Linked DNA regions of Homo sapiens: region 2 is linked to region 1. The links come from fine-mapping of genetic effects on gene expression. A gene starts in region 1. The other region holds a variant in brackets. All regions are shown on one strand. Distances are from middle to middle.

What was found. PIP is the estimated chance that this variant, and not a neighbour inherited with it, causes the effect.
Region 2: its variant is fine-mapped to the expression of ABI3BP in fibroblasts (GTEx, PIP above 0.99).

Annotation. Positions count from the first base shown.
Region 1 is chr3:100,983,943-100,999,880 of GRCh38, forward strand. ABI3BP (ABI family member 3 binding protein) reads right to left here and starts at 9,479. Exons shown (of 68, transcript NM_001375547.2): 1 at 9,364-9,479. The coding sequence starts at 9,442.
Region 2 is chr3:101,034,965-101,050,902 of GRCh38, forward strand. No RefSeq gene overlaps it. Among named protein-coding and RNA genes, the nearest start is that of ABI3BP, 50 kb to the left of the region's middle. The variant A/C (reference allele first, on the strand shown) is at 8,263.

The DNA.
Region 1 (15,938 bases):
CAAAGCAGCATAAAAGTAAAAATCACTTTTAAATTTACAGAAATCAAAACTTAAATAGTAGAAAAACGTACTTGCAACCTTTAAATTTTACTCTGTACTCATCAAGAAAGATTTATTTATCAAGCACTTATACATACAAATTGTCAAAAAGCTCCAAATCAGTAGTTCTTAACCCTGGCCATATTAGAATCACCTGAGGAGTTAAAAAAAAAAAAATCCCACCCTAGACCAATTTAAAATAAATTTGTTGGGGAGGCAGAGCATTACTGATATTTTTGAAAACTTTACTATTCTCATGTGCATCCAGGATTAAATATATTGGGCTATAGCCTGTATTGGGATATACATTATAGTATTTATAGTCATAGGTAAACTTATTAAATGAAGAAAATATTGAATTGCTATGTCATAGGTGAGATGTGACTTAGGCCTCAATTTTCTCTAAAATTAATTTCTAGTGTGACCAGAAGATGCTTGAAGTGGGTGAATTTGCCCTGGTTTTCTAATGGTTGGGCTTTCAAAGTATGATCCTTGACTGGAGAATGATGACAAATCTTCTATGAAAATGCCACATCTTCTAGCTCCTTCTTTAGAATTCCACAGAAAGGAACATTAGCTGATTTCATAGCATGTGTACTGACAGGCCTTAAATGTTCATCAAAATCACTGTAAATATATGTCAAGGCTTTAGTAGGTGAGGGAAACCTACAACACACTATAACAATCTTGCTGTGGAAGGCTCTTGGTGGGAAACCCAAGCTAATATTATACGGAGTAGAATAAGTACTGATTTAGTCTTGCTGTCCACAGAACTTTGCCAAAGTAGTCTGAGAACCTTGAAGCCAGCCTTTCCTACCATGTGCCTCCTGCACTTTCGGGGCCTTCCCAACACAAGAGAAGACTGTACACTAGAGAAGAGACCCACAGGGTATCTAGTATTAAACAGTCTATGAGAGTCTGAGTGTCATGGTTAGAATATTTTCTGTGTACAACCTAAATTTTCTTTCCTGAGAGCATATGGAAAAATTGTTTTATTAACACTAAATAGGATCTGAGAGAAACTCCTCTGGTTTTTCTAGTTGCTTCCATCACATCCACTGATAAAAGTATATTTTCTTTCTCTACACACAAGTTTAATTAGACCTACAGTAACTTCCATTTACTCTAAAAGCAACTCCACTGAAGTTTCAGAAAAGCACTTTTTTTTTTTTTTTTTTTTTTTTTGGAGACAGAGTCTTGCTCTGTCGCCCAGGCTGGAGTGCAGTGCTGCGATCTCAGCTCACTGTCACCTCTGCCTCCCGGGTTCAAGCGATTCTCCTGCCTCAGCCTCCCGAGTAGCTGTGACTATGGGCACGTGCCACCATGCCCGGCTAATTTTTTGTATTTTTAGTAGAGACAGGGTTTCACCATGTTAGCCAGGATGGTCTCGATCCCCTGACCTCGTGATCCGCCCGCCTTGGCCTCCCAAAGTGCTGGGATTACAGGCATGAGCCACCATGCCTGGCCAGAAAAGCACATTTTTATCAGGACTGTATCATCAGGTTCATAGGTGTTCATTACCTACTATGTTAATTTTTTTCTTATGTTTTTGTCGTTTCCTTTAAGAGATGGTGTCAGGGATAAAAGCGTTTTTTCTATTTTGGAGGAATTTTGTGTGCCTCTGTACATGGTATCAACCACATTTGATGGACCACAGAGGAAACCAGCAAAGGAATCTAGGCATTGACTGGGATCCTGTATACAGAAAACAAGGTCCATATTGGGTGCTGAATATTTACTTGGTACTCTTAAGATATTTATCTCAATTCTCAGAGATTTCTTATAATTAACCTCAAGCACTGAGGGAGACAAATTAGCAGTTTGCCAATGTTGGCATCTGCCACAAAATGCTTAATTCTTTAGGAAGTTGACGGAGTTTTAATGCTTAAACCAGTATATTATCTGGAGTTAGATTTCCCATATTCATAGTTTCACTATATCACTTGCTACCAGCCATTGAGCTCTTTGTGGTGGATAGACTCTTACATAATCTGAGGTATACAATCAACTTGTATGGTAAACCTGTGAGTTGCTTCTAACCAGTAGAATATGGCAGAAGTGATGGGTTGTCACTTCTGTGATTCAGCTACATAAGGTTGTGACCTCCATCTTACCAGCAGACTCTCCTGGGCTTGTACATTTTGATGAAGCAAGTGGCCATAATAGAAAGGCCTATGAGGCAGAGACCTGCAGCAACCTCAGGCCAATAGCCAGTGAGAAAATGAGGCCCTTTGACCAATGATCCTCAAGGAATTGAATTCTGCTAACAACCATGTGAGCTTGGAAGTAAATCCTTCTTCATGCAAACCTTCAGATCAGACCTCACCTCTGGCCAGTACCTTCACTGTTGCCTTGTGAGACATCTTGAAGGAGAGGAGAGTCTGCCCAGCTAAACCAGGCTCAGACTCCTAACTCACAGCAACTGTGAAATAATAAATGTGTGTTGATAATTTTGTGGACATTTGTTATAAGAAAAAGATAACTAACATACTCTTTTTTTTTTGAAATGGAGTCTTGCTCTGTTGCACATGTTGGAGTGCAGTGGCACAATCTCAGCTCACTGCAACCTCCGCCTCCTGGGCTCAAGTAATTCTCATGCCTTAACCTTCTGAGTAGCTGGGATTACAGGTACCTGTCATTACACCTGGCTAATTTTTGTATTTTTAGTGGAGATGGGGTTTCACCGTGTTGACTAGGCTGGTCTTGAACTCTTGACCTCAAGTAATCTGCTCACCTCGGCCTTCCAAAGTGCTGGGATTACACTAATATACTCTTTAAACTTAATTTCTTATCTGTGAAATGGAGCTAATAATAATATATATTTCACATGTTTATAAACACTTAGCATTAAATATCATGCCTGATACACAGTAATATGGTTATCATCTTTTAAAATGTTATTTTAATTGAATATATGTATATCAATTATTGTTTTTCTATATTATGTTTAGCATGTTCCTTCTTTAGCTGATACTATTTATTTTTACTTTTTGGTGGTCATTTTAACAAATGTATTCTTATTTGACTAGTAATCTCTCTAGATAACTAGATAATCTAGATAATCACATTAGAGTATCCTATTTCTTAATTTTATGTTTATTCTGAGATCAATTTTATTAAATTCACCTATTTACTTTCAATATTGTCTTGTTTATACCTACTGTTATAAATTGCAATCAGGGAACAGCAAAAGGCAAATTTTTTCTGAGGGTGGTGATCCAGATAGAGTGATTGGTCCCATCTCCTGAATGGCATTCCCTTCATTAAACACCTCACTTATGTCTTTAAAAAGCCTTCTGTAAACTCACATTAGCCTATAACATTTTAACTGTCTTTGCTATAATATTATATTGATGAATTCTTCTATTTTCAGGTGTTCCCCTGTGTCCCCTCTCTTTCTTGAAGGGAGACAGGGGAAGATAGTAAAAATTCTTAACAGTATCTTATAGCCCAATATAGCAGTCTATAAAACTAAACTAGTGAATGTATAATTAACACAAGAAAACTTTATTTTTTTAAACCTCAGGTTCTAAATTTAGCATCAGGACAAATTATATTTGGTCAGTTTTTACCTTTGTAATATAAGGTTCTTTTATAGCAGGGGCTGTATCTCATTCAGTTTACCTAGTAGATGCTTAATAATCTGGGCTTGATGTGTTGACTATTGATTATTAAGGATTATTAACAGTCAATTAAAGATTATTGTGGAAAATTTTTATGCAGCAATAGATAGCTAACATACTCTTTAAGCTTAGTTCTTCATCTGTGAAATGGAGATAATAATATTTCACAGGTGTGAGGATAAAATGAGATAATTTACATAAACACAGCATTAAACACCATTGATATGTAACATGATGATTATTAGTATACTTTTAAGAATTATTAAGGACTACTGATAATCTTTAATAATTGATAGACAAACACATCAATAAAACTGTCAAGAAAATTTAGAACTGTAAAAGATGCTAAAATAATTTCTTGCTTGGTGGTTTTTAAGCTTCTTTTTAGCAGCAGAACCATTTTTTTCTAACGTACTGTTTAATACAGTCCCAGCAATACATAAATATATGTTACTCAAATAAAAGCAGAACCACACCAAGTAGGCTTTGCACTCCTCACCAGTATCCTGTGTTCCATAACTTAAGATGGACGAGATCCTCTGCAGCCTCCCATAAGCATCAACCACCTCTTGGAGAAGTGGACTGAGCTGTTGGAGTGACACATTCTTGTTTTGTCAAAGTGAGGTTGGAAGGGCTCCATGGAGAGCCAGCTGCCAGGTGAGCAGCTGGAAAGTTGACAGAGCAAGGTGTAAGAGCCTTCCTCTCCAAAGACAACATTTTATTTCCTCTTTGTAATCAATCATGAGGAGTCAGGCCAGATAGAGACAAGGAGAGCACAGTTACATCTTGTATGGTTTTTTTCAGTCTAGGCTTCCCTCTCAGTACTTTAACACTCACTGAGCTTTGGCCCCTGGGGTTGCCTGGGCTCTGGGCCAGCAGCTACCTTTGTTGAGAAAGCCCCTCACCTCTCAGCAATCCTTCTCCTTGTCTCAACTTGTGTTTGTACTCAAGACCTCTATTTGGGTTTCTTATTCTCTCATAATTCTTCATACCTCCCATCCAGATTGGATCCTTTTTTTCTCAAAATGCTTTGTGCTTCACCCACACTGAAGGATGACCCCTCTCTATTGTAATTATCCCTTTCCACACCAGTCCCTTATCTTCTCCACAAGCTGGTCAGCTCCCTGAAGACAAGTGCCAAGCTTTGTCTCCCCAGCCTCAGTGCTCTGTGTATACATCCAATATAATTTGTTACTTGAATGAATTAATGTATCTTTACATAGAGCAGGGAACTAATATTGCATCAAAATTAAAGGTATAGTCATTTGCCACTTTCTAGCTATATTACTTGGAGTAAATTACTTAAACACTCTGAGGCACAATTTTATGCTCTGTAAAATGGGAATAATAGGTTTACCTGCTTCATAGGTACTATAGTCTGAATGTGTTCCCTCCAAAATTCAGGTGTTGCCAGTGCGATAGTATTAGGAGCTGAGACCTTTAAGAGGTGATTAGGCCATGAGGACTCCTTCCCTGTGAATGGGATTGGGTGCCCTTATAAAAAGTCTTATGGAGGAAATTTATCCTTTTCTTGCCTTTCTGCCTTCCACCATGTGAGGATGCAGCAAGAAGGCCCTCACCAGATGCCAGCACTTTGATCATGGACTTCCCAGCTTCCAGAACCGTGAAAAATAAACTTCTGTTCTTTGCAAATTACCTAGTCTCAGGTATTTTGTCACAGAAGCACGAAACAGACAAAGACAATGGAGGAGCTTCAATAATTTAATTAGGTTTTCCACATTAAAATATGAAGCACTAAATTACCACATGCAGGATATACTCAAAGAATGTTACCTGTGATAATAATAATGGTAATAGTTATTAATAGCTATGGCAGTTACTGTTATGATTATCATCTGCTCTGTGTTTTGTTCCTAAAGTCAGAGATTTCTACTCTGTTAGGTAAGAACCCAAAGCAAAGAGCCAGCTGCCTCTTCCCTCTGCCATATCCCAAGAGTCACACCCAAGATCCTCATGCCCTCTGGCCATCAGATTACACTTGTATCTTGGAGGTTCCTCTGTGGTTTTTCTCACACTTGCTTAAAAATAATAGCCATTGCCTTTGGGCTAATTACAATCTTCTGTATACTGGAGTTTCCATGCAGAGGTGTGTCAAGGGCCTGCTCTCCCACTATAAGATTTTGTTGGCTCCTTTCATTACATATTGTTCTCACTGGTTTTTATTTTAGCCTGTTTGCCAGGAAAAGAAAAAAGGCCAATGGTGCCAAGAATAAAGATTCTGAGAGGTAGCTGGAGCACAGGGGCTTCCAAAGGTATAAAACAATGTGAAAATTCTTCTCTAGTATGGTCTAATTCACCTCCTGAGAAACAAGCTTAACAGGAGCTCACCTGAAGAGTCTATGACATCTTACAAATCCCTGTGGAAAAGCTGATCTTAGAGCAAAGGTGCAGCTTTCCACAGGGTAATGTTGGCCATATGGGCAGACAATGGTCAGGCTAGAATGCGGTAGAAGCCTCCCTTGTTGCCACGTAGAACAACACTGCAGTCCTTTACCCCATCTTTCTGCCAAGTTCACACCACCTCATCTCCTACCTTACAAGAGATTTGTCTTACATTTTGAATACAAGATCATGTGTTATTCGGTGTGCATGTTTTTCAACATTGATCCCCTTTTCTATGACCCAATAAGGATTTATTGAAAATCTGTTATGTGCCAGACTTGTGTCTCTTATCTCATTTAATCCTAAAATACTATGAGATAGTTATCATTAGTCCCATTTTACCAATGAGAAAACTGAGGCTAACAAAAATAAATAATTTGACAAAACTATAGTCATTTAGTGGTGGGGAGGAGAAAAGCTCCATTAATAGTCTCCAAGCTTTTAAAAACTAAGCAAAAATCTTCTAATAACTTACTTTTTATAACAAAGTATGTGACTAGGTATGCAAATAGGCACACCACATATAACAACTGACTTCTTATAAATAACTATATATGGTTATATATATATAATTTTGTATATATAATATATATATAAAATATGTACATAAAAATGTAGATATGTTCTTAGGAAGAAAAGTTAAAATTAAAATACTGTTAAAGAAATTTACAAGAAACTCTTTTATTCAAGGAATAGGTAGCATTCACATGTACACTACAGAATGTCATTCCTAAGGCTGGGGTCAGAGGAACCTGCCTATCTGGCAGGAGGCAGGTTAGAACATGGATTTTGAATGAGAAGCTAGGTATCAAGTCCTGGCTCCACCATTAACATGGGAAAGTTACTGAATCTGCCCTGCTTTGGGGTATCTTCATTTGTAAAATAAATGGTTATGTTAGGTCAGTGGTTTCCAAATATTGGCCTGTGATCAATTTTTCATTAGTCTGTGGGAAAATGAGAAAAATAACAATGGACTTATTTATGAAATTAAATTTATTTATTGTATAAATCTGTTAAAATTGTTTACTTTTATGAACACTAGACATTCTCCCCTGTTCCCTTTGAGCATCCTCACATAGCAAAATTCAAGTATGCTCTCTATAACAGGACCCTGATGTTAAAATATTTGTGTATTTTTGTTGGTCCATAAATCCAAAGGTCTGGGAATCACTAGACTAAGTGATCATGAATATCTTTTCTAGCTCCAGAATTCTAACCACTTCTTAAGTCACAAATAGTATTTAACCAACTCTAAAGTAGAAGGAAGAACAAAAGTAAAAACTTTTACTCTTTTTTCTTCTTTTTTAACTCAACATTTCCCCAAATGTGTCCTGTGACAGACAAACCCCTGTTAAGATATTATAGATCTTCTATGGAAAAGAGGATTCTTAGTCAAATGAGTGTGAGAAACAAAAAGTTGTACAGGTTTCTTTATTGAGAATGTGCAAACTGCTAACACTTATTGTGATTCCCCCCTTAAAGACTCCACAAGTTATTGACAGGAATCAGCTGCCCTTCCACCCTCACCCCAAACTCTACCCATTGTAGGACAAACAGTGCACCTATGCCTGGAGCACAGTTTGAAAAAGATGACTTCAGCTAAAAGGTCCTCAATAGCTTTCCAATAAAGAAAAAACATAATATTAAAAACAAGACTTGCCATTTCTTTTATCATTATTATAATTTGATGTTTTTTTCCAAATTACCAAAACTACAAATATTTTTTAAATAAACAACAAAAGTTTTGTGGCCATTTTCGACAACTATGTTTTTTTTTCTTTCCCATTATAAATAAAGAAAAATTGTGTCAAGAGATTTGTGTCTAGTGATTGCAACACGATAATTAAAGCACTGGGATTGTCCAGAAGTTTGCAGTAACAAAGTTGCACCTATATCATCCCTATGCAATGAATAAAAAGTAAAATAAAAGTCTTCTGTAGGTATTAAGACTGAGAAAACCCCCAGACTCTTCTCAAATGATATGTTACTGTTAAATATTCCATTAGTAGGTACAATTAACTCTGAATGCTTGTGGCTCATAATTGATTTATTTAAATCACAGTTTTATTGTGATCAAGGAGCAAAACTCTTGGTAGAAAAAGATCTAAGAGTGCTTGTTTTTTATTTTTCTTTAATTATTTGATCAGAGTTGAGAAAGTTTACTTAGTCTTTTTTATTGCTGTTCACATTATCGTGTGAAATATCAACTAGCCAACCGCTTCAGCCTTCACATGCTGGATTCAAGTTTCACTTTACCCACCGAGGAAAGAACAGTTTTCACTTGGGACAAGATGATCCTGGGGCAGACTACCCAGAGAGAGGACCTAGGGATGATCTTTTGGATATTCTGACACTAGCAACCTTTCTTTCTGACTTTAGGCACACCAGGTTCTTGACAAGCCTGCAGCTCTGCATTACTTCTGATGTTTTCCATCATGACTGTATGGTAAATTCCAGCCTGTTTTTCACAATCCTGCTGACTACAGCAGTCTGCAACCATAAAAAGCCTTCACAGACCTAGAGTTGGCTTAGAGAAGTGCCTCTGCAGAGAAACAAAAGTACATGCAACATTTATGTTCAGAGACAGGAGAGAGGCAACAGCCTCTTGTTTTGGTTTCTGATGGGCTCAAAGGGTTGTTTTTAGGGTCAAAATTTAGAAATTTTAATTTTCTTCTGATAACATTTGTAAACAAAATACCAACACTAAAATGAGAGCAATTTAGCCAAGAAAGGGGGGAGTGTCCTGTCCAACAGCTCAAGCCCTCTTCCAAACTCCACTGGAGGGACGTGTCTGCAAATCAGCACATGACCGTACTTTGGTCTGACCTGCCTAGACTCCCTCAGCTTCCTGGTCAACAGGTATGTTTGAGGTTCACACCAAAGATTCAAGGTTTCAGAACCAGCTTCTTTTGAATCTTAAGCTAGTACTGATTCAGTCTCTGGGGAGGAGGATAAAAACACCAAACAACTCTTTCTAACAGACTATAATATCCATTTACACAATATGATTCAATACACAAGCACTATAGTTAGAAAGTATACAGTTCAAGCTCTGATGAACAGCTGCTCAATGTAATAAGTTTGTTTTCATTTTTGCAATAAAGAGCTGTAATTGAAAAGTAAATAACAGGAGGGGAAAGTAAAAGTTTAAGAGACCCCTTCACACATTTGAACTTTGAATCTCTGCAGAATAACTCTATTCCCCCCGTATGGTAAAGCAGATCATATTTAAAATCAACATTTAAAAACATCTATATCTTAATATTATTTTTAAAACATAAAACATCAGGCTACTTGCCTTTTGGCAATTTCTGTGCATTTCCCAGGGCTAGTGTAATACTTCCACAGAGAAGTAGACACCCCAAACTGGAGAGCATGTTGCATTTGCCACCTCGCATGGGGAATGATGCTGGTGGGTGCCTCGCAACCCTGGAGCTGCATTTAAGTGGACTGTCTCCCAGTGACAGAGGCGGGCGGCTGCACTTAGCTGTGCCGTGGGCTTACTCACAGGGGGTGGAGACAAGATGACATCACACCCTTTCCCACACACACCAAAAAAAAAAAAAAAAAAGCACAACAGCAAAAACATATCATCACATTTCTTTCTTTCTGCTAAGTTGTAACTGTGTCTCTTCCTTCTGTGATATAAAAATTCAAATTATGGCAGATCTGTATTTGTGAAAGAAGAAGTATTTAGGCAGTTTTGAAACATTTGATAAACTATTTTAAAGAATCCAGAAACAATGTACTAAAAGCTATCAAAATGTTAAAAATATAAAATAAAACCTTATTAAGAAGGAAACTTTTTAATTATCCAGTAAACCAACCCAATTCTTTTAAATGGGAGTAAACTCATAAAGATATATTTTGAGCCATTCTGTAGTTCCTGTATTATGAGAAACATTTAAGAGTAAGTCTTTGGCTACAAAGCTATACATTACGTTATAATATATATGTGTATACACATATATTCAACAGATGTAGATGTAGAGACGTAGAGAGAGCACTATTACTATGTGAGCCTCAACTGTGGACTGAGTTCTGTAATCGAGTCTTTACCTACTTTACTGTATTTTAATCTTCCCAGTGCCTCTGCAGGAGATATGGCATTATCCCCATTTTGCCATTAAGAAAAGCTGAGGAAAAAAGGTTAAGTGTCCTGACAATGCTAGTATATTCTACTGCTTAATAACGGATGCCACTTACTAATGAATTGTCCTTGAGCAAACTTCATCTCTATATTATCAATATTGATGACATTTAAATGCTTGCTCCGTGTTAGGCACTGATCGAATCAGTTTACACATGTTAAGACATTTATTCCTCAAAACGGTCTATGAGGCAGGCATTGTCATCATCCCCATTTTACAGATAGATAAACTGGGCACAGAGAGGTCAAGTGAAAGTCCAAGGTCACAGTGTTGGCATTTTAAGCAGCCCATTTAACTATAGTGCTTCCAGTCTTAATTACTACATTTTAGATTCTAAAATAAAGATGACAGTATCAATTTCTTACATTTGCTAGCAGTTTTTCGAAAGTAGTTGCCATAGAGCCTGACACACAGGAAACATTTACTAAATGGCAGTCACTGGAAACAATAATAATGAAAATGATAAGCCCCCAGTTAAGTAGAACTATAATTCTAACCTGGGCATATTTACCTCTGAAGTCCACATGTGTATCCTTTCCCCCTACATCACTTTGGTCAAAATATATAGACGCATGGGTGGAATGGCTGGGTTAATAAAGCACTTTAAACCTTGTTGGTATATTTATACTGACTCTTTGAAAATCGCTTACCTCATTGGGGTGCTGTAGCTGAACCAAAAACAGTAAGAGAAAAATTAAATAACACTGGTCAAATGAAATTCTAGTTAGAAAACTTATCAAAAAGAAAAAAGAAGAAAAAATGGAAGAGACAGCCCCGTCTTCCAAATAAAGTGTGAGAAGGCACCTTGTTAAAGTCATTTAGAGTTGGCTGGGTCTAAGCTCTCACCATAGGAATGCTCTGGCAGTGACTACAGGAGGCACTGGCTTATTTAACAGGTCTTTTTCATCTCTGATTTTTTACTTGAATAAGCAGTTCCCTCAATCGGGGTTAGGACATTTATCCAGCTGGCACTGCTGGTTCTGCTCCTATATGTCATTGCCATCACATTAAGCCAGTGAGACCACTGTGTTAGCAGGAAATGACAGGTTTTCTGAGGGGAACAAACCCAGCAGAAATATTGTAAAGAAGGCTGGTTCTTCAAAACATTTATGAGGGGCTGGTGCAAGAGTTAGGAATTGACCTCTGCTTGGCCAGCAGGAATTCAGGAATTGGCCTCTGCATGGCCAGCAGGCAAAGTCAAATCCACCTTAGCAATCATTATTTGCAGTTTTGCAACTGACTGTAGGCTAATTAAATGAAGCACAATCTCTAATTATTGTGTCAGAAATAAAAAATGGTTGCATTATCTTAGCTAGTAGGACACTTGAACATTCAGTGAGGATGTTGAAAGTATTAGGGCTCTCCTCAGACTAGGGAGGAGTAACACTACAGAAAGCAACTGTGCCTCTTTTGCTACTGTCTCTAGTGCCTAGAATATAAGAATACAATAAGTACATGATGAGTAAGTGTCAAATGAAACAGAATTCATCAATTCCTCCCAATAACCTAAGGGTTAGTTCTAGATTATGTCAGAGAACACTTGAGTATGACCTAGAATGTGCAGTTGTTGGGAGATAATTTTGCAAGGGTAACTAATGTTTCCGCACATCCTATGAGCAGAGGCACTAACTCCCTATGTTCCAGAATATCTTGTAAAGAATATTTGCACATAAAATATCCTTGGAAGATAGAAATTTGTGTTCTGTTCCATATAATAAAGGTAACATCTCCCTCTGGGGCAATGTGAATACATGATCACTTCCCATTATAAAATATTTAAGTTCTCTAAGCTTGTCATTCCTCTTCTGTAAAACAACCCATGGCATGTGTACATATCACCTGTACCTCTTTGTGTTGTCCTGTGAGAATTTGGGCTCCTAGAACTAGTGCAAATGCTGATATTCAGGCTACTGCTATTGCTGTAATAAACTGTCCTTTCCTTTGTCTTTGACCCAGGTGTTTTGTGTCTCCTGCCAGCCTCTATGAACTGCATGTTAGCTTGCAGATAGGATAAAAATCTCAGATCTTTCACAGTTCTTGAAAATAGTATTGGCCCGCGTTAAAATATTTTATTAAATCATGCTTTAGTATAGTGCATTTTGTGTAATACCTACACTGAAGTCTATTATAAGAATCAGCCATGAAACCCCCTATTGTACATAGTAAGAGTGTTGCTAGACATTGCTTACTACATCATATAGTACCTCCTAAAAAATAACAACCCTGGAGAAAACGTCTGACTGCTGTGTCAAATATGAAAAGTTGTGGCTATTTTTCCAGAGCAACTGTATTTATTTTTTGACATTGTAACCAGGTTTCTCTTTCTGTGTTGACTGGTAGAAAATTAGAGCCAAATACATCCCCCACCCATATTAAGTGTATAGGTCTTTGTGATGTGCATTCTTTGACATCATTCTTGGCTTTATTTTTCGTCCCCACCCTTATTTCTTGCTTATTTTACTTGGAGTCTTAATTTATGTGATTTTGTAAGTTGTTTTAATTTGTTTCTGGAGCAAGGTGAGGTAAAACAAACAAACCCCACACACAGAAGTTGTGTCAAAAAACATGTGTCACAAGCTATAAAGTGGGCATCTGGGAACCTGTTCTTTTTCCTTTTCTATGCAACCGTAGACTGATAGAATTTTGGTACAATGATTGTATGGCATTTTTTTAAGAATACTTTCTCCTTGGGGAAGTCAGTGAAATCCACGAGATTAGAAGACATCTAGACCACTGCTCAAATAAGTGTCATAGTTTTCAGTCATGTCATGTTTGATTTTTTTTTTTTTTTTTTTTGAGACAGAGTCTCGCTCTGTCGCCCAGGCTGGAGTGCAGTGGCGTGATCTCGGCTCACTGCAAGCTTTGCCTCGCAGGTTCACGCCATTCTCCTGCCTCAGCCTCCCGAGTAGCTGGGACTACAGGCACCCGCCACCACGCCTGGCCAATTCATGCTTGATTTTTTTAAGGGCTCAACGTTAATTTCATTATTTCAAATGAGACTTCTATTAAAACTCATACATCTTTCAAATCTTGGAAGTCAACTTTGTGCAGTCATTTAACCTATTTGTCCATATTTTTAGTCTCTGTAAAGTATTATGCTAGGAGATTTTTAAAAGGCTTGCATGTATGCAATTAATATTTGAAGCTATGCTGTGGTTTTTCTAAGGGATGCTAATAAAAATAATTTTAATATGACTTATTTGAAATGGGAAACCCAGTGTTCCATGTTTTCATCCCAAATCTTTTTTCTTTAATCACTTTCCTGAATTAGACCCATGATCCAATTGGACAAGTGTCCTGCTCCAGTGGAGGTACATTTGGCCAGAGCATGAAGTTCTCTTCCACAATTCTTTTTATAGCACAGAGATGTACTGCCCCTTAAACACCTAAGTGATATTTGCAGGTTATTCTTCAATTTGTCTAAGGCATCTTGACCTCTAAATTTTTGGCTTCATAACCTTGAGTTAATTAGCAACTTGTACTTATAAAACAGTGTGAAGGATCTATTCATCTAGAAACAAGCTTCTTTAAGACCTAAGTTGTATATCTCTAAGCTGTGAAATTTGCTTTCCTTGTTTTATCTACATTCTGCTTTCTTCATGGAGATGCTGAGTACCTAGCTGAACTTGTGCAGGTGAAGGGAATTTTTTTTAACTTAAGCTTCAAATAATGTAAGAATTGATGGAGTCAAGAGCTGAGTGAGAAACATAAGTTAGTAAACTAGAGAAGGAACTCTGAACAGGAGGATATGCCAGAGGAGGATCCTGAAAGTTAGAGTACTGCATCAGGGAGGCTGACAGCCTGGGGCATGCAAGTACGCAGCAGCATGTTGAACGAGTAGTTGTCTGGTGGTCCTGGGAACATACCTAGGACCGTGCAAATTCAACTAATGTGCACATCTTTGAGATGTGGGAGGAAACATGAGGACCCAGAGAAAACCCACGCAGACATGGAAAGAACGTCAAACTTTACATAGTGGCACCAGTTATGAAACAATTTTATTCCAGGAACTGCTGTACATAATTTGGTGAGTTTTAACACTTGTCTTGGCACATGTGTTTACCGGGGAAATCCTCACCGTAATCATGACAATAAACATATCCCTCACTTCCTAGAGAATTCTTGTGTCCCTTTTCAATCTCACCCTTTTCCCTCTCGGTGCCTACCACATGATGCCTCACAACCACTGATCTGCTTTCTAGTACAATGCACTTCACTGCATTTTCTAGAATTTTACATAAATGAAATCATGCAGTATGTACTCTATTACTGACCAGCTTCTTTCACTCATCATGGTTATAATTAGATTCACTTATGGACATTTGGGCTATTGCCAGTTTGGGCTCTTACAAATAAGGCTGCAATGAACATTTGTATATATGTCTTTGGATGGATGGATGGATTTTATTTGTCTTGGATAAATATCCAATATTCCAAGTAGAGTGGACTACCTAATCGGGTGTATGTTTAAATTTTTAAGAAACTACCAAACCCATTTCCAAAGTGGCTGTGCAATTCTATCTTCACACCTATAGTACATGGAGGTTCCAGTTCCTCCATGTCTTCAACATTTGCATGTCAGACATTTTAATTTTTGCCATTCTTACAGGTATGTAGTGCCAGATTTGGGGTTAATTTGCATTTTCCTAATGGCAAATGACGATAAACATGTTTTCAGGTCTTTTTTGCCATTCGCTTATTTATTTTTTTTTAGTAAGGTGTCTGTTCAAAAGTCTTTTTTCCACTTTTGAGGGAGGAGTTTGTTTGTTTCTTTATAATAGAGTTTTGTGAGCCCTTTACATACTCTGAACTTAGGTTTTTTTTAAATCAGATATATACTTTGCAAATATTTCCTCCCTATCATGGCTTGTTTTTTATTCCTTCAGCAGTCTCTTTTGAGGTGCACAGTTCTTAATTTAGATAATGTCTGATTTGTCCTACTTTTTTGTTATAGATTTTACTTTTGGTGTCATAGCTAAAAATCCTTTGCCAAATCCAAAGGCATGAAAATATTCTAAGTTTTATATTTAAATCTGTGAGCCATCCTGAGTTGATTTTTGCATACAGTGCATGGTATGAATCCGAATCCAAGTTCTTTTTTCTTTCTTTTTTTTTTTTTTTTTTTACATACAGACACCCAACTGGGCTAATATCATTTCCTGAAAACACTATCCTTTCCCCACTGAATTAATTTTGCACCCTCATCAAAAATCAATTGTGCATATACATGTGGGTTTTTTTCTGGAGTCTCTATTATGTCCCATTTCTCTATTTGTCTATCTAAATGCCAACAACCTCCTGTCTCGAAAACTGAAGCTTTATAATAAGTCTTAAAAGCAGATAATGCTTGCCCACCTATTCCCTCTCTCTCTCTCTCTTTTTTTTTTTAGACACAATCTCAGCTCTGTTACTGAGGCTGGAGTGCAGCAGTGTAATCATGGCTCACTGCAGCCTTGACCTCCTAGGTTCAAGTGATTCTCCCACCTCAGCCTCCTGAGTAGCTGGGACTATAGGCACACACCGCCAGCCATACCCAGCTATTTTTTTTTTTTTTTTTTTTTTTTTAGTAGCAATCGGGTCTCGCTATGTTGCCACAGCTGGACCAGAACTCCTGAGCTCAAGTGATCCTCCGGCCTTGGCCTCCCAAAGTGCCGGGATTATAGTCATGAACCACTGCACCTAGCTGACTTTTGTATATCCACATGAATTTTAGAATTAGCTC
Region 2 (15,938 bases), 51 kb after region 1:
GGTGGGAATGCAAATTAGTTTGGCCATTGTGAAAAGCAGTTTGGTGATTTCTCAAAAAACTCAAAGCAAAATTAACATTCAACCCAGCAATCTCATTATTGAGTATATGCCCAAAGAAATAAAAATCATTCTACCAAAAGGACACATGTACATGTATGTGCATCACAACACTATTAACAATAGCAAAGACACGGAATCAATCTAAATGCTCATCAATGGTGGACTGGAAAAAAAATGTGTTGCATATGCACCATGGAATACTACACAGCCATAAAAAATAATGATATCGGCCAGGCGTGGTGGCTCATGCCTGTAATCCCAGAACTTTGGGAGGCTGAGGCAGGTGGATCACCTGAGGTCGGGAGTCCGAGACCAGCCTGACCAACATGGAGAAACCCCGTCTCTACTAAAAATACAAAATTAGCCGGGTGTGGTGGCACATGCCTGTAATCCCAGCTACTCAGGAGGCTTAGACAGGAGAATCTCTTGAACCTGGGAGGTGGAGGTTGCAGTGAGCTGAGATCATGCCATTGCACTCCAGCCTAGGCAACAAGAGCGAAACTCCATCTCAAAAAAAAAAAGAAAAGATATCAAGTCCTTTGAAGCAACATGGATGAAGCTGGAGGCCAGTATCCTAAGCGAATTAACGCAGGAACAGAGCCCTCACTTATAAGTAGGAGCTGAACACTGAGTACACATAGACACAAAAAAAGGAACAACAGACACTGGGACCTACTTGATAGTGGAGAGAGAAAGGAGGGTGAGGATCAAAAATCTACCTATCAGGTACTATGCTTATTACCTGGGTGGCAAAATAATCTGTCCACCAAACCCCTGTGACATGCAATTTACCTATATAACAAACCTGCACATGTACCCCTGAACATAAAATAAAAGTTAAAAATCTAAGTGATTTTTTTTCTATTTGGCCTATAACACGTCCATCAGAAAACAGAATTACACTGATTTTTCCCTCTACATGTGTGTAACAAAATCTTTTAGGAATGTAAAAATCCAATGTCTCCCCCCCACCAATATTTTAGGATAAAATAGAAGCATTGAGAAAATGTGTCATACTTAACTGTAGTTTTGTGAATTTCAGAGCAGAAAGTAGGAGCTAAGTCAATTAGCACAACAGACAAATGTGAAGAAGAGAAAGAATAAAGTATAGCTAGATATAACACAGAAGAAAATCACTGAAATTTAATGTCAGTTATTTTATGCAACTCATTGTGCTCTTCCCACAGATACTGTCAGATCAAGGAGAAAAATAACAGAGTCACATCACTTCCTAAAAAAATAGTCCAATGTCTTGAATAATCAGAGATTCAGCATTCAGCTTCTAAGGAAGGATTGACTCTTCCTGATTCCTTGGGGATTAGTCTTAGTAACCACAGACAGAAGAACTCATAGCAATGAGCCAGGAAGAAATTTTTAAAATATTTTATTCTAGAACACACAAAAAGTGCAGCAGTGATCTCATGCTCATGGAATTCACTGGTCTTGCCACATTCCACACCATCCCGAAGCTGCTGGCTTGATAGGATGGTGGAATGGCCTTTTGAACACTCAGTTATAATACCAGTTAGATGGCAATACCTTGCAAGGCTTGTACAAGGCCCTCTGTATATGCTCTGAATCAGCATCCAATATATGGTGCTCTTTCTCTCAGAGCCAGAAGTCACAGGTCCAGGTAGCAAGGGGTGGAGATGGGAGAGGCACCATTTCCTATTTACACATAGTAACTCACAAACAAAATGTATGCTTCCTGTTCATTAGACTTTATGCTCTGTTGGCTTAGACGTCTTAGTCCCAGAGGTAAGAATACTTCCACCAGGAGATACAACAATACTTCCATTAAACTAGAAGTTAAGACTGCCACTTTGGGCTCCTCATGCCTCTGAGTCAACAGCCAAGAAGGGAGTTATGATGTTGGCTGGGGTGATTGATCCTGACTACCAAGGGTAAATAGGACTACTACTCCGCAATAGAAGGAAGAGAAGTCTGAAATACAGAAGATCCCTTAGGGCATCTTTTAGTATTACCATGCCCTGTGATTAACGTCAAGGAGAAACTACAACTACCCAATCCAGGCAGGATTACAAATGACCCAGACTGGTCAGGAATTAAGTTTTCGGTCACCCCACAGGTAAAGAGCCACAATGAGCTGAGGTCCTTGCTGAAGGCAAAGAAAATGCAGAATGGGTAGTAGCAGAAGGTAGTTATAAATACCAGTTACAACTACATGACCAGTTACAGAAATGAGAATTGTAATTTCATGAGTGTTTCCTCCTCATCTTGTTATGAATATATTTGGGTGTACATAGATATATATTAAGCAAACATATTTCCTTTATTTCTAATCTTATTTCCTTATCACATAACATGATATGTATTAACTTTATATCAGTATTTAACTATTGTTATTTTTACATCATAGTATTAAAGTGTAACTTGTAGGATATATGTGTATATATATGTAATTTTATATATACATACATATACATATGTAATTTTACATCATAGTATTCAAGCATAACTTGTAGGATATATGTGTGTGTGTGTGTGTGTGTGTGTGTGTGTGTGTATGTAACTTGTACATAGTATTCAAGTGTAACCTGTAGGATATCAGAAGAGAAAATGTCACTGAAAGACTTTACCTTCTCTTCTGAGGAAAGGATTAGTATTCCTTGTGTACGCAGGATCCTCGTATCCTGGTAGGTGGCATTACGGCCTGGTTTTTGTCTTTATTTGAAGGTTAGGAATGGTTTAAGGAGATTCATATGGGTGCCAAGCTTACAAGGAGTTAATTGTGATGGTTGATTTTATGTGTCAACTTGACTGAGCTAAGGAATACCCAGATTGCTGGCAAAACATTATTTCCCGGTGTGTCTGTGAGGGTGTTTCTGGAAGAGATTAGCATTTGAATAGGCAAACTGAGTAAAGAAGATTGCACTCACTAAGGTGGGTGGAGGTAATCCAATATGTAAATGGAACGTAAATATGGAAGAAGGGTGAATTTGCTTTTTTTCTTTGTTGGAACTGAGACATCCAAGTTCCTCTGCCTTTGGACATATATAATCCTGGTTCTCAGGCCTTCAGACTCAGACTGGGACTTACACCACCAGCTCCCTTTTTTCTCAGGCCTTTCGACTTGGAAGGAATTATACTACCAGCTTTCCTGGTTCTGCGCCTTGCATATGACAGACTGTGGGTCTTCTCAACCTCTATAATCACATAGGCCAATTCCTATAATAAATTTCCCCATATATATCTATATTATTGTGGGGATTCTTGGCCCCCATAATCACATAAGGCAATTCCTATAATAAATTTCGTCTTCCATATATCTATCTGTCTATCTATCTATCTGTCTATCTATCTATCATCTGTCTATCCTATTGGTTTTATTTCTCTGAGGAACCCTGACTAATATCCCAGGGTAAGAAATCTACAGAGATGTGAGAAATTTTTCCCTATTAAAAAAAAAAGCATCAGCTACTAAACAGCTGGTACAGAATTGAATGGATCCCTAAATCTTAGTAAGGTCTAAGTTCAATGAACTTGCAAAGAGAGAGAGAGAGTGAAACTAAAAGCATGACTACAGTTTGTGTGAGCAATAACTATTTTTGACATGTGGTGTGATGATGCTGTAGTAATCAGAGAAAATCTTGTTCACAAGCTTCCACCTGGATTTTTAAAACATTTCAATGGAAACAACCAAGTGTCAGTCTTTCAGCAGCTGACTGCTTGCATCACCTTTCTTTCTCCAGCAGTCTACTCTGGATCTTTCACTACCCCTTAGCAGCTCCTCCGGCATTGTGAAAAACATGGATGAAATTCAAATCAAGCCATTTTGCCTTCAACTGCCAGTTTGATAAGGCAAGAAAACGGACATATTGCAAACTTATTTTTATGGTAGTTATCCATAGAAGAATTGTAATTATCCCCACATTCATGGTAGTAACATCTGCTCATTACACCACTGTCCTTTTCCAACCATTATAGTTGCAATTCATCACTTCCTGAATGTGAAAGTAATAATCTCTCCCCAGAGGAAACCAAGGATTATTATTGCCATTCTTGGTTTGTTTAGACCAAGAAACGCAGCCAAACTCCAGTTTTTGCCTAAGGGTAAATCTTATGGGATTCATGAATATGAATTAAAAGTAGTGTGTGGTGAAGACTACAACAATCTCTAGTCTCCTGAGAGTAAAAGATGATTTGTTCCAAGTCAGTGACTACTTGTGACTTTCATATTCCCTTTAGCATTGCACAGCAAAAACAGCACTGGCTTGGGAGTTAGAGACCCAGGTTCTAACCCTGTCTCTGCTACTCCTCATGCCTCTTGCAGAAGTCATGTAATCTCTCCAGACCTTGTCTCTTTCTAAATTTTAATTTATACTCTAGCGAAGGTCTCTCCTAGCTGTGACCTTCTTTGAGTCCTTCCCTCTAGCAGCTCTATGCTTTCACTAACCAAATCTTGGAAAAGTGCCAGATTCAACTTTGGAGGCTTAAAGGTGATTGCAACCTTTGCCAAGTTGGGAATCACCTACAGCTGTTACTCTAGCCTTGAGCCTCTAGGGAGACAGTCAGTCAGAAAAGTTCCTTAATAACTAGGGCTAGCGCTTGGCTAAGCAGTCAGATAGGTGGAATTTGTGTTTTACACTCCTCCCAATTTCTATATCAGAGTACCCTTCATGCTAGGCAATTTTCTTATATCCTACAGAACCAGCCTTTAGCAGTCAACTAAACCATAGGATGTAGGTGGCCGATAAGCCTAAGGTAGGATTTCTTCTTAAAACTATGTTGGAACAGAAGATTCTTAGAGACTGAAAAAGACCCCACAGTGTTCCCAGCATGTGCCTCTCTTTTAGTCTTCCCTTCCACCCTTCCAGTTGCTGAGGCCCAATTCTTAAGTGCTATCCTGGGTTCCTCTTTCTATCATACCCTTCTTGTAGTCCACCAATAAATCCGCTCAGCTCCATTATTGAAGTAGATCCAAAATCCAACTATTCTTCATCATACCCATTATTATTATTCTAATCAAAGCCTTTGCATTTGAGGGGTAGTATATACAGAAATAAAGGATAAGCAAAGAGAAGCAGACTTGGTTTAATGCAGAAGTCAGTAGACATTAGAAAGAATTCATTTTCTGAGAAAGAATACCATATATATATATATATATATATATATATATATATATATATATATATATATATATATATAATTTTTTTTTAACAACTTAGCAGCCAGTACTGAGGGGATCATGCTTCTCATCTAGCTTTGGCAACAGCCTCCTAATCAGTCTTTCTGTTTCTGCCCATACCCCTGGGAAATCTATTTTCGTCCCAGCAGGCTGTTCTGCAATGGCTGCCAGAGTAAGCCAGTTAACAGGCAAATAAGATTATGGTTGAAACTCCCCCATAGCTTCCCATCTCTCTTGGATTCAAAGCCAAAATCTCATCCATTGTATACTTATCCCTGTGTACTGGCCCCCCTGACATCTCTGACCTCACCTCCTCCACTCACCTTACTCCCCCTGCTCCCCTGCACCAGCTCCCTCCTCATTCCTCAGATACACCAGGCATGCAGCTTAGGACCTTCATGCTTGCTGTCCTTGCTGCCTTGTCTGCTTGGAAACTCAGCCCTCGGGGACCTGCAAGGCTTGCTTCCTTGCGACATTCAGTCCACTATCTCTTCCAGAGACTTTTGCAAACCACATTATATAAGAGTGCACCACACACACACACACACACACACTTGCACACAAACACACGTTCTCTATCCCCTTATTGTTTTTTGTTGTTTCACTTTTCACACCTGATGTCATATATATTTGCTTATTAAAGGTTGAATGTCCCTTATCTGAAAATCCAAAATGCTGCAAAATATAAAACTTTTCAAGTACCAGTATGATGCTCAAATAAAATACTCATTGGAGCATTTCAGGTTTTGGATTTTCAGATTAAGGATGCTGAATCAGTAAGTATGATGCAAATGTCCCCAAATCACAAAAATCTGAAACCTGAAACACTTCTGGTCCCATGCATTTGAGATAAGCGATAATCAACCTACATCTCTTATTCTGTCCTCCTTCCCTCCATCAGAGCAGAGCTGCCTCTTGTTTGTTGTTGGACTTTTGCTGCTGGGACAGTGCCTGATATGCCCTAAACACTCAGATACTTATGACAATGAATAGACTGAGGGATGGATGAACCATTCTCTAATCCAAGGAAATACACGTTGGTCCTTCTTCCAGCTTCTCCTTAGAACACATCTACTGACATATTCTAGAAAGGTCATAAGCAAATGGCATCCAGCCCTGGTAGGACAGGCTTTGCTTCAATCCCTCCTTACAATGAGGTAGTATATTGCTACCAATTACCTACATATGATATTTCCTCTTTTTTTCTTGCTCTACTATTGGTTTTGTCTAGATGCATCAAGGTATACTTAATTGACATGTACCATGGTCATACAATCTTACATTCAATCTAAATCTATCAAAATAATTTCTAAGAAAACACTGTAAGAAGAGGAGGTTTTAGAGTGTCAAAACTCTAATTTCAATTGTCTGGGGCCCTGAGCTCCAATTCAAAACAACTGACTAGTTTACATTTACTGATAGAAAAGTGAAAAGAACTAGAATTCATTAAGCCTCCATCAGCAACAAGCATTGTGCTCAAAGCTTGTTAAATGCTATCTCGGCAAATCTATGGTATCTCTGTAAATCATCGCACGATTTCAATCATATAAATGAAGAAAATGATGCTTGGGGTGGCTTTAAAAACTTAGCCAAAATTATAGAATTGAGAATCTGACACCTATCTGAATCCAAAATTCATTCTCCTTCTATACCAAAGACATAACATTCACACCATTCAAGGGAAAAATCAGTCCTTTTTCCTTCTCATGCACAAGCCCATGACTAATATTTGGCTAAGGATTTTCTTGAGGGGTCAGAAGAGTTCTAAAGAGGTATTCTCAAGCATGAAATCCACAGCCTCTGAAACTGAACTTATCTAGCATGCACAGGGATTTGATCGCTTTTCATGGGAAATTACTTCTAGCTTAGGAAAACTCAAGCACAGAATGAAGATGTATCTACATATTAATGTCCACATAAGTTTAAAAACCATTGAAAACAATTATCCCAGACTCATTTTCTGAAATGCTAATAAGAACTGGTTTCCAAATATTAAGTAGTACCTGGTAGCTTCTGGGAGTAAAAACTGAACCTTCCTCCTTCTCTGTAGCCATTTCAGAAGCCCAGCCTTTTATTCAGGTGCTACTTGAGGTGCACTGGGCAGGTGCTGGGGACACAGCAGGGAACAGCAAGCACTGTGCTACTCCTTTCATACTCATGGTCTGATGTAGCAAGCAGACAATTAGGTGAATCTTTAATTACTTTTTTGTTAAATGCTATCAACAAGTGCAGAGTTGTGCTATTACAGAACCTATAATCCCTGCCAAAGTGGTCATGATAGCCTTTCTTGAGAAAGTAATGTTTGAGCTGAGAGCTAATGCATGAAGAAACATGTCTTAGGTGGAGGGATTGGGAAGTGGTGGCTGAGAGTCAGTTTTTTCAGGCAGAGAGAGCAGCTTGTAGTAAAGCCCTGAAGTGGGAAGGAGACAGATACATTTGAAGAGCTAAAGGGAGGCCATGTGGCGGGAAGCTGAATTTGAGAAGAGTGAGAAGAGGAGAAGACTGCAATGAGATGAAGCTTCCCAGATGGAAAGAGCTTGAGAGGGATTCTGCGATGGGCTCCAAGAGCTATAAGAAGTAAGGAAATATTTTAGGCAAGGGTACCTCATTCAGATTTGCATTTTGAAGGGTTCACCCTAGACGTAGTATGGACAGTGGCTTCATGCAATGGAAGCTAATTAAACATAGATGGAGGAGGTGGAGCTGATAAATACAGAGAAGACAGCGAGAATGCAAAGGCCAGAAAAAAATAAGAGTAGCAATGAATTTGTATAAAAGTCAATGCATTTGGGATATGTCTACAGGATAGAATCAACAGAACCTAGTGATACATTGGATATAAAAGATAAGGGAGAGGGGGTGTCAAAAATGACTCCTAGATTTCCAGCAGGTTGGCTGGATAGTCACACTGTACCCTGGGGAGGAAAACACAGCAGGAGTACACTTGATGATGGGGCATGGAAAGCATGAATTCATATTATACTTTGACTCTGAGTTGCCCATGATACATCCAGTGGGATGTTGAGTGAGCAGTTGGGTATTTAAGATCACTC[A/C]GAGGAGCTATCATCTGGACTTGGGACTTAAATGTGGAAATAGATGCAATCACTTGGGAAAGGAACATAAAGTATTAAGAGGTTGGAGTTATGACAAACTAAAATACTTAAAGGTCAGGTAGAAAAGGAATGAATTAACAAAGAGACATGGTGGAATTTCATCACATGCTGCCTTGGTATTATAGCTCCCCTTGAAAATGCCAGTGAACTTGTTTACCTGAACCCATTAAAGTAAGGCATACCCAGGAAATCAGAATAAACAGTGTTTTCAACACTTTTTCTAATAGCAGAGAGAGCCAAGACAGGTCTTTGTGAATCAGCCAAACCACAAATTGTTTATGTACCCAGCCATAATTACTTAAGGCATTGAGTTTGCCCTGATCCTTATCCCTTCCAAAAACACATTTTTACTTTTTACTATTTCCATTCCAATTTTGAGAATTTATTCCTATTCTTTTTCTGTGCTACTTCTGTTCTACTAGAAGTGTGGTTAATTGGTATCATTTGTTTGGCAAAGTAATTAAGTCTCTATTGTACAGTCATCTGTTGTTATCCAAGGGGGATTAGTTCCAGGACCCCACACAGATACCAAGATCTGCAAATGCACAAGTCCTTTATATAAAATGGTTTAATATTTGCGTATAAACTACACACATTCCCCCGATACTTTAAGTAATCTCTAGATTACTTATAATACCAAACACAGTGCTTACACATCACTTCATTTGTGTGGATTTGACATAGTATTCAGTGTGTGGGAAGTTCAAGCTTTGCTTTTTGGAACTTTGTGAACTTTCTTTCCCCAGTATTTCAATCCATAGTTAGTTGAATCCATAGATGCAGAACCCACAGATATGGAGGGAAGATTCCAGTTTATTTTATATAAAACATTATTCTTTCTTCTTCCTTTCCTAGAAGGAACTCTTATTCTGAATTTAGTGCTTATACCCCTGCATTTCTTAATACATTTGCCAAGTATTTTCAAACCTATAAAGTTTTGCATGATTTTAATTTTATAAATGGCATCAAATTGTATTATTCTGCAACTTGTTTTTCTTGCTGAACACTATGTGTTTTATGTATACCCATGTTGATAGTGGCAACTCTAGTTGATTCATTTTAACTGCTGTATAGTATTCCAGGGGATGACTTTGCCACCATTTCTTCTCTTTTCTTGTTGAACATTCAGGTTGTTTCATTCTTTTTGCTATTACACACAGCTATAATTATTTTTATACATTTCTTCTATGTACATTTGCTATGGTTTCTTTGAAGTATGAACCAGAATTGTCAATTTACTGGCCAAAGAGTATACACATATTTGACTTTACTAGTTATTATCAAGCTACCCTCCAAAGAGTCACCAGCAATGTTTGAATTCCCACAGAATAGATGTACTGGGATGAGATGAGCACAGGATGCCAAGGGCACCACAGAGGATATCAATCAGACTGAGGAGGGAGAAGGACCATAGAAGGAGAATACATCTGAGCCAGGATTTGAAAAATGAGTGGGAACACACCAGAGAGAAAAGCATCCACGGTTTTAAACAAAGGCAAAAGAGAACATGGCAAGTTCAAAGAATGGAGGGTATTTTGAAATGCTAAGAAACAGATGTAAGGGGAGAGCGGGAAAAAATTCTACAATACTCAAAGAAATGGAAAGACTAGCTGTAGATTATAAAAGGCCTTGGCTGGGCGCGGTGGCTCATGCCTGTAATCTCAGCACTTTGGGAGGCCAAGGCGGATGGATCACCTGAAGTCAGGAGTTCAAGACTAGCCTGGCCAACATGGTGAAACCCTGCCTCTACTAAAAATAAAAAAAATAGCCGGGTGTGATGTCACGTGCCTGTAATCCCAGCTACTTGGGAGGCTGAGGCAGGAGAATCACTTGAACCCAGGAGGCAGAGGTTGCAGTGAGCTGAGATTGTACCATTGCACTCCAGCCTGGGCAACAGGAGTGAATCTCCATCTCAAAAATAAAATAAAAAATAAAAAAAAAGGCCTTGTGCCATGTGCAGGAGTTTGGACTTGATCCTTCAGGTGATGGGAAGTGCTCAAAGAATATTTATTTTGCAGGAAAGTGGTAGTATTAGGATTTTTCCCTCAGTAAGATTCCCCCTGGGTCTTACATGGATAGTGATTAGGAGTAGGCAAGAACAAAAGCAAGACTGTCAATTAGATTTTTGCAGGTTGATGATCTAGGCTGGAAAGAATGGCCCTTTATCCTAATAGTGGGGATAGTGAGGGGGAAATGAAGGACGTTAAAAAAATGTTCAACAGAATGAGGGATAAATCAAAGGTGAACCTCGTGGTGCCAAGCAAATAAGGAATTAAGGAGGAAGAGATTTGGGGAGTGTAATTTGAGGATGGGGAGAAAAGATGACAATTTCAGTTTTTTGTTTACTGAGTTTAAGGCTCACATGGAACAGCCAAGCAGAGAATGAGGGCTTGGAATTCAGGTGAGAGATCTGGGCTTGAATACACATTTAAGAATTATCAACTTACAGATAGAAAGTAAAGTCATGGCAATGGATTGGAGTGTTTAGAAAGAGTGTGTGGAGGATTGTAAGATCAGAAAGTATGGGCAGAACCTTAGGAAGCACCAAAACAGAAAATAAATAAGGTGATAGAGCCTTAAAAAGAGACAGAGAGACGGGCTGGAAAAATATGGAAAAAGTCCAGGAGGATGTGGTGCTACCCAAGGATCCAGAAGTTTTAAATGAAAAAGACTCTCCAGTGACAAACGGTCCAGAGATCACTAACAAAATATCACCCAAAAGCATTCGTTGGACTTAGACACAATGTGATCACTGGTGATCTTGGAAAGGGCAAGTACTTCTGAAGTCACCAGCGTATGAACTATCTCCAATTCAACAAGATATGGATATTTATAGAGTATTTGTACCACCACCACACACACAAAATGGTTGTTTCCTTTAACTAAAGTAAGTCAATTTATCTTCTTAGGCTCCAATTTGTTCAGCTGAATGAGGAGTAGGTCACATTAAGTGAGAAACAGGGCACTCCCAGAGCTCAGAAGTGATCATGTTATCTCCCCAGATATATTTTTATTTTGTTCATTTAATTTTCATTTCTAGGATTTCTGTTTGTTTTTTATGGTATCTGTCTCTCTCAGATTGTGAATTGATTTCTTGATTTATTCGCATTGTTCATCTGTGTTCTCTTGTATCTCACTGAGTTTCTTTAATATTATTATTTTGATTTTTTCAGTTGTTTCATATATTTTCTTTCTGGTGGAATCTGTTGCTAGGGAATTATTGTATTCCTTTGGAGATGTCATGTTTTCTTGCCTTTTCATGATTCTCTTTTGTACTTCTGTTGCTATCTGTGCATCTGGTGTAACAGTTGCTTTTTCTAATTTTATGGATTGACTTTATAAGAAAACACTTTTTCCTATAGATGTATCTATAGTGTTGGTTGAGTGAGGTGCTTTGGCTTTGATTCTGGGTGAGTGTAGTAGTGTAGTCTCCATATAATTTCTTTGTAATCAGCACAGTGGTGTATATGAGTTCCTCATTGGCTTAGGTTGTTAGTGAAGGCTGTGGCGAGGCTTTGCTGGGAAAAGGACACCAAGTGGGCCAGTCCTTGGATACCAGCGGTAATAGTGCTGGGCCAGGCATGCCAGTCCTTGGGCCCCCGGGTGGCATACATGGGCACTGGTGATAATGAAAGCCAATCTTTGGCCTCCAAGTGGTTTGCTCAGGTACCAGCAGTGGCAATAATTGGCTAGGCAGGTGGGCAGGTCTCCAGGTTTCTGAGTGGCATGCATAATGTCAGTGTTGGCTGTAGCCATGGCATGCCAGCCCTCAGGCCCCTGTGTGGCACGTATGGGTGTTGGAGGTGGTCGTAGCAAGCTGGATGGGCCTTTCCCCAAGCCAAAGGGAGATTTTTAAGAACAAGAATCATTTGTACTCATCCATTCAATATTTATGTCATCTTTACCAAAATTTTTTGATTGTGCATTATTTTTCTTAATCAAAGTTCAAGCTATTCTCTTAATTTTTTATCTCACGACAAAATAATTATTAAACAATTTTTTGAGCTGAGCAAATCTAGCCCCTTTTTTCTTTATAGTGTTTTGGCAAGATCTAAAATTAAAAATTCTTTCGGTAGTCTTTCCAATATTTTAAAAATATTTTTGTTGATTTTTAAATATTTAAACAACTAAATTGAGTTTAAGTAAGCAGATCATTACTGGGTATAGCCGCTATACTATATATTCCTTAGGATGTACCACAAAAAGGCATTTATCTCAATGACACCATCCCCACAAGGGAAATGAAATAAAATGCTTGCTGCCAATATGAACATGTAAAGGTCAGGTTTCCTTTACTATGATAAAGGTCAAACAAGTGGGCCCAATTGAGTTAGGCATTAAAGAGTATATGTGGGTCAAATTTGAACTCCCTCAAAGTTTGTGCTTAATTGAATTCAGATACCTGAAACTGCTTTTGAAAAAAAAACACAATTGTTGTCTTTCAAGAAAGACACCTTTAAGATAGGACATGAGACTTCTTGAATATGTCAGTGCTCTTTCAAAAGAGCCCTAAAATTCTAAGTAAAATTTGTTGAGTTAAGCAAGGTTGGACCAACTCTACTGGTATCCTCTATTGGGAGGAAATTTATTTTTTTAGTGTTGACAGTGCAAGCCAACTTCAGACCTCATGTATATGTTTGTGGCTCTCCTTGTAATAAAGTGAAAATAAAGGAAGGAGCTATGCATAACTGATCAGAGAAGAAGAGATGGCACATTTGAGAATAAAAGAGACATAAATTTACTGAATTTTTACTGTGTATCAAACATGGTTCAATGGCTTCACATGAAGTCTCTTTTAACTCCTAAAACAACTCTATTTAAATATCACTATTACACAATGAAACTAGCTCAGAGAAGTAACTTGCCCAAGATTGCATAACCTGTAAGAGGTGAAACCAGGGCTGTAATCCAGGTCTACCTGGTTCAGAGCCCAACTTATTCTCCTGTTCTGGGAGCAAGGGGGCAAGGCGACCACCTGACTGTTGGACACCTGACTGTTGCATACCCATGTTCATAGCAGCATATTCACAAGAGCGAAAAGAAGGAAGCAACTCAAGAATCCATTGATGGATGAACGGATAACAAAATGGGGTATATACATACAGTGGAATATTATTTAGCCTTTAAAAGGGAGAAAATCCTGACACTTGCTACAATATGAATGAAGCTTGAGGACATTTTGCAAGGTGAAATAAGTCAGTCACAAAAACACAAATACTGTATGAGTCCACTTATGAGATACCTAGAGTAGCCAAAATCATAAAAAGGAAGTAAAATGGTCCTTACCAGGGGCTAGGGGGAGGGGTAAATGGGGAGCTGTTTAATGAATATAAAGTTTCAGGGTCTGGCATGGTGGTGGCTCACGCCTATAATCCCGGCACTTCGGGAAGCTGAGGCAGGTGGATCGCCGAGATCAGGAGTTCAAGAAGAGCAGCCTGGGCAACATGGCGAAACTCCATCTCTACTAAATATGCAAAAATTAGCCGGGCGTGGTGTGGGCACCTGTAACCCCAGCTACTCAGGAGGGTGAGGCAAGAGAAGTGCTAGGACCCAGGAGGTGGAGGTTGCAGTGAGCCAAGATTGCACCATTGCACTCCAGCCTGGGCGACACAGCGAGACTCTGTCTCAAGAAAAAAAAAAAAAAAAAAAGAATATAGAGTTTCAGTTTTACAAGATGAAAAGACTTCTGGAGATTGGTTGCACAAGAATGTGAATATACTTAAACTACTGAATTGTACATTTAAAAATCATTAAGATAGTAATTTTATATTATGTATATTTTACAACAATTAAAAAAAAACCCTGTATGAGTTGAGTTGTTTCCTTCACCTTTACCAATTACTTCACTTTCTTTTCTACTCAGTGTTATCCGCCAAGGTGGGAGGATCACCTGAGGTCAAAAGTTCGAGACCAGCCTGGCCAATATGGTGAAACCCCGTCTCTACTAAAAATACAAAAATTAGCCGGGCATGGTGGCACCTGCCTGTAATCCCAGCTACTCAGTAGGCTGAGGTAGGAGAATTGCTTGAACCTGGAAGGTGGCGGAGATTGCAGTGAGCCAAGATTGTGCCACTGCACTCCAGCCTGGGAGTTCTTTTGCAAGGCAGGAATTGAGATCAATGAAATGAAGCTTCCACACAGACATACAATCTGTTCAAAGGAAAAAAAAAATCCTAAAAACAAGAATATCCCTCCACTACACTAAACAGCCATTTATTTAAAGGACACAAATTCTTTAATAGAATTTACATAGTCCATTGGAGATGGGTTACTACATGATTTGTTTGTAGCTGATTTTTTAGCCAGGCATCTCAGGTTGAGAGAGAGGTCACTATATTTAATAAACTCCAAAGCACTCAATGTGTATCAGGAACAATTCTAAGCACTTTACAGATGTAAGCTCAATTAGTCCTCACAACTCTATGAAGTGGTATGATTATTATCTTCATTTAATAAGTGAGTGAGTTAGGGCATTGAGAGGTTAAGTAACTTGCCCAAGGTCAAACAACTAATAAATGGCAGAATCAAGATATTAGCAAAAGCAGTCTGGCTCCAGAGTTTATGCTATGTAACTGGTCACTTGGATTTTTTTGTGGGTCTTCAAATACTATACACAAATATATTAAAAAGTAGGGATACAAGAAATTTTTTTGAAGTTTAAATTTCATTGTTTTCTTTCAAACTTGCTGGTGTTGCTAAGTAACTTTATATGTAGGCTCATATGGAGATAAGATTAAAGTCTAAATGTGAGGCTCAAGCCAGCTATCTCTGCTGCCCTCCCCACCACCCTCCTGCCAATAGATTCTGCTTCTATCTACCCCAGGTCTACCCTAAGTTCTACTTCAAACCTAAGCTCCTTATTGCCCTTTGACTCCTGACTGGGCTTCCCTGGAAAGTTTTCATACCATTTTCCTGACCTAATTTCTCCACTCGGAACACAGCTGTTGAATTCAGTTTCCACCAATTGCCCTGATCCATCTGCGGGTCTCTCCATTCACAGAGTCTCAGTTGTCTGCTCATCGCCCTTTGTTTTGAAGCTCACCCACATCATGCCTCACTTTCAGAGCCTCTTGTCTCCTGTTTTGTTCTCCGAGGTTTTTGTCAGAGCCCAACTTATTCTCCTATTCTGGGAGCAAGGCACGTGTTTCCTGACCAACTGTCTTTTTTCTGGCCAATCTTCCATTTCTCTGGTACCAACACCTTAAGGTTCTCAACCCACACGGCATCGTGGCAAGGGGCATTTTCCTTCACACTCTGCTGTCAATGTCTTTATCTCTTGGCCTGAAACTCACCCAGCTGCTTCAAAAAGATAGGCCAGCTCTGTAATTTTCTTTATGATTTTGAATTTTAAAAATCTATCTGGGGCGGGGCACGGTGGCTCATGCCTGTAATCCCAGCACTTTGGGAGGCCAAGGTGGGCGGATCACCTGAGGTCAAGAGTTTGAGACCAGCCTTGCCAATATGGCGAAACCCCGTCTCTACTAAAAATACAAAATTTAGCCGGGCATGGTGGCATGTGCCTGTAATCCCAGCTACTCAGGAGGCTGAGGCAGGAGAATTGCTTGAACCTGGAGGCGGCGGAGATCGCAGTGAGCCGAGATCATGCCACTGCACTC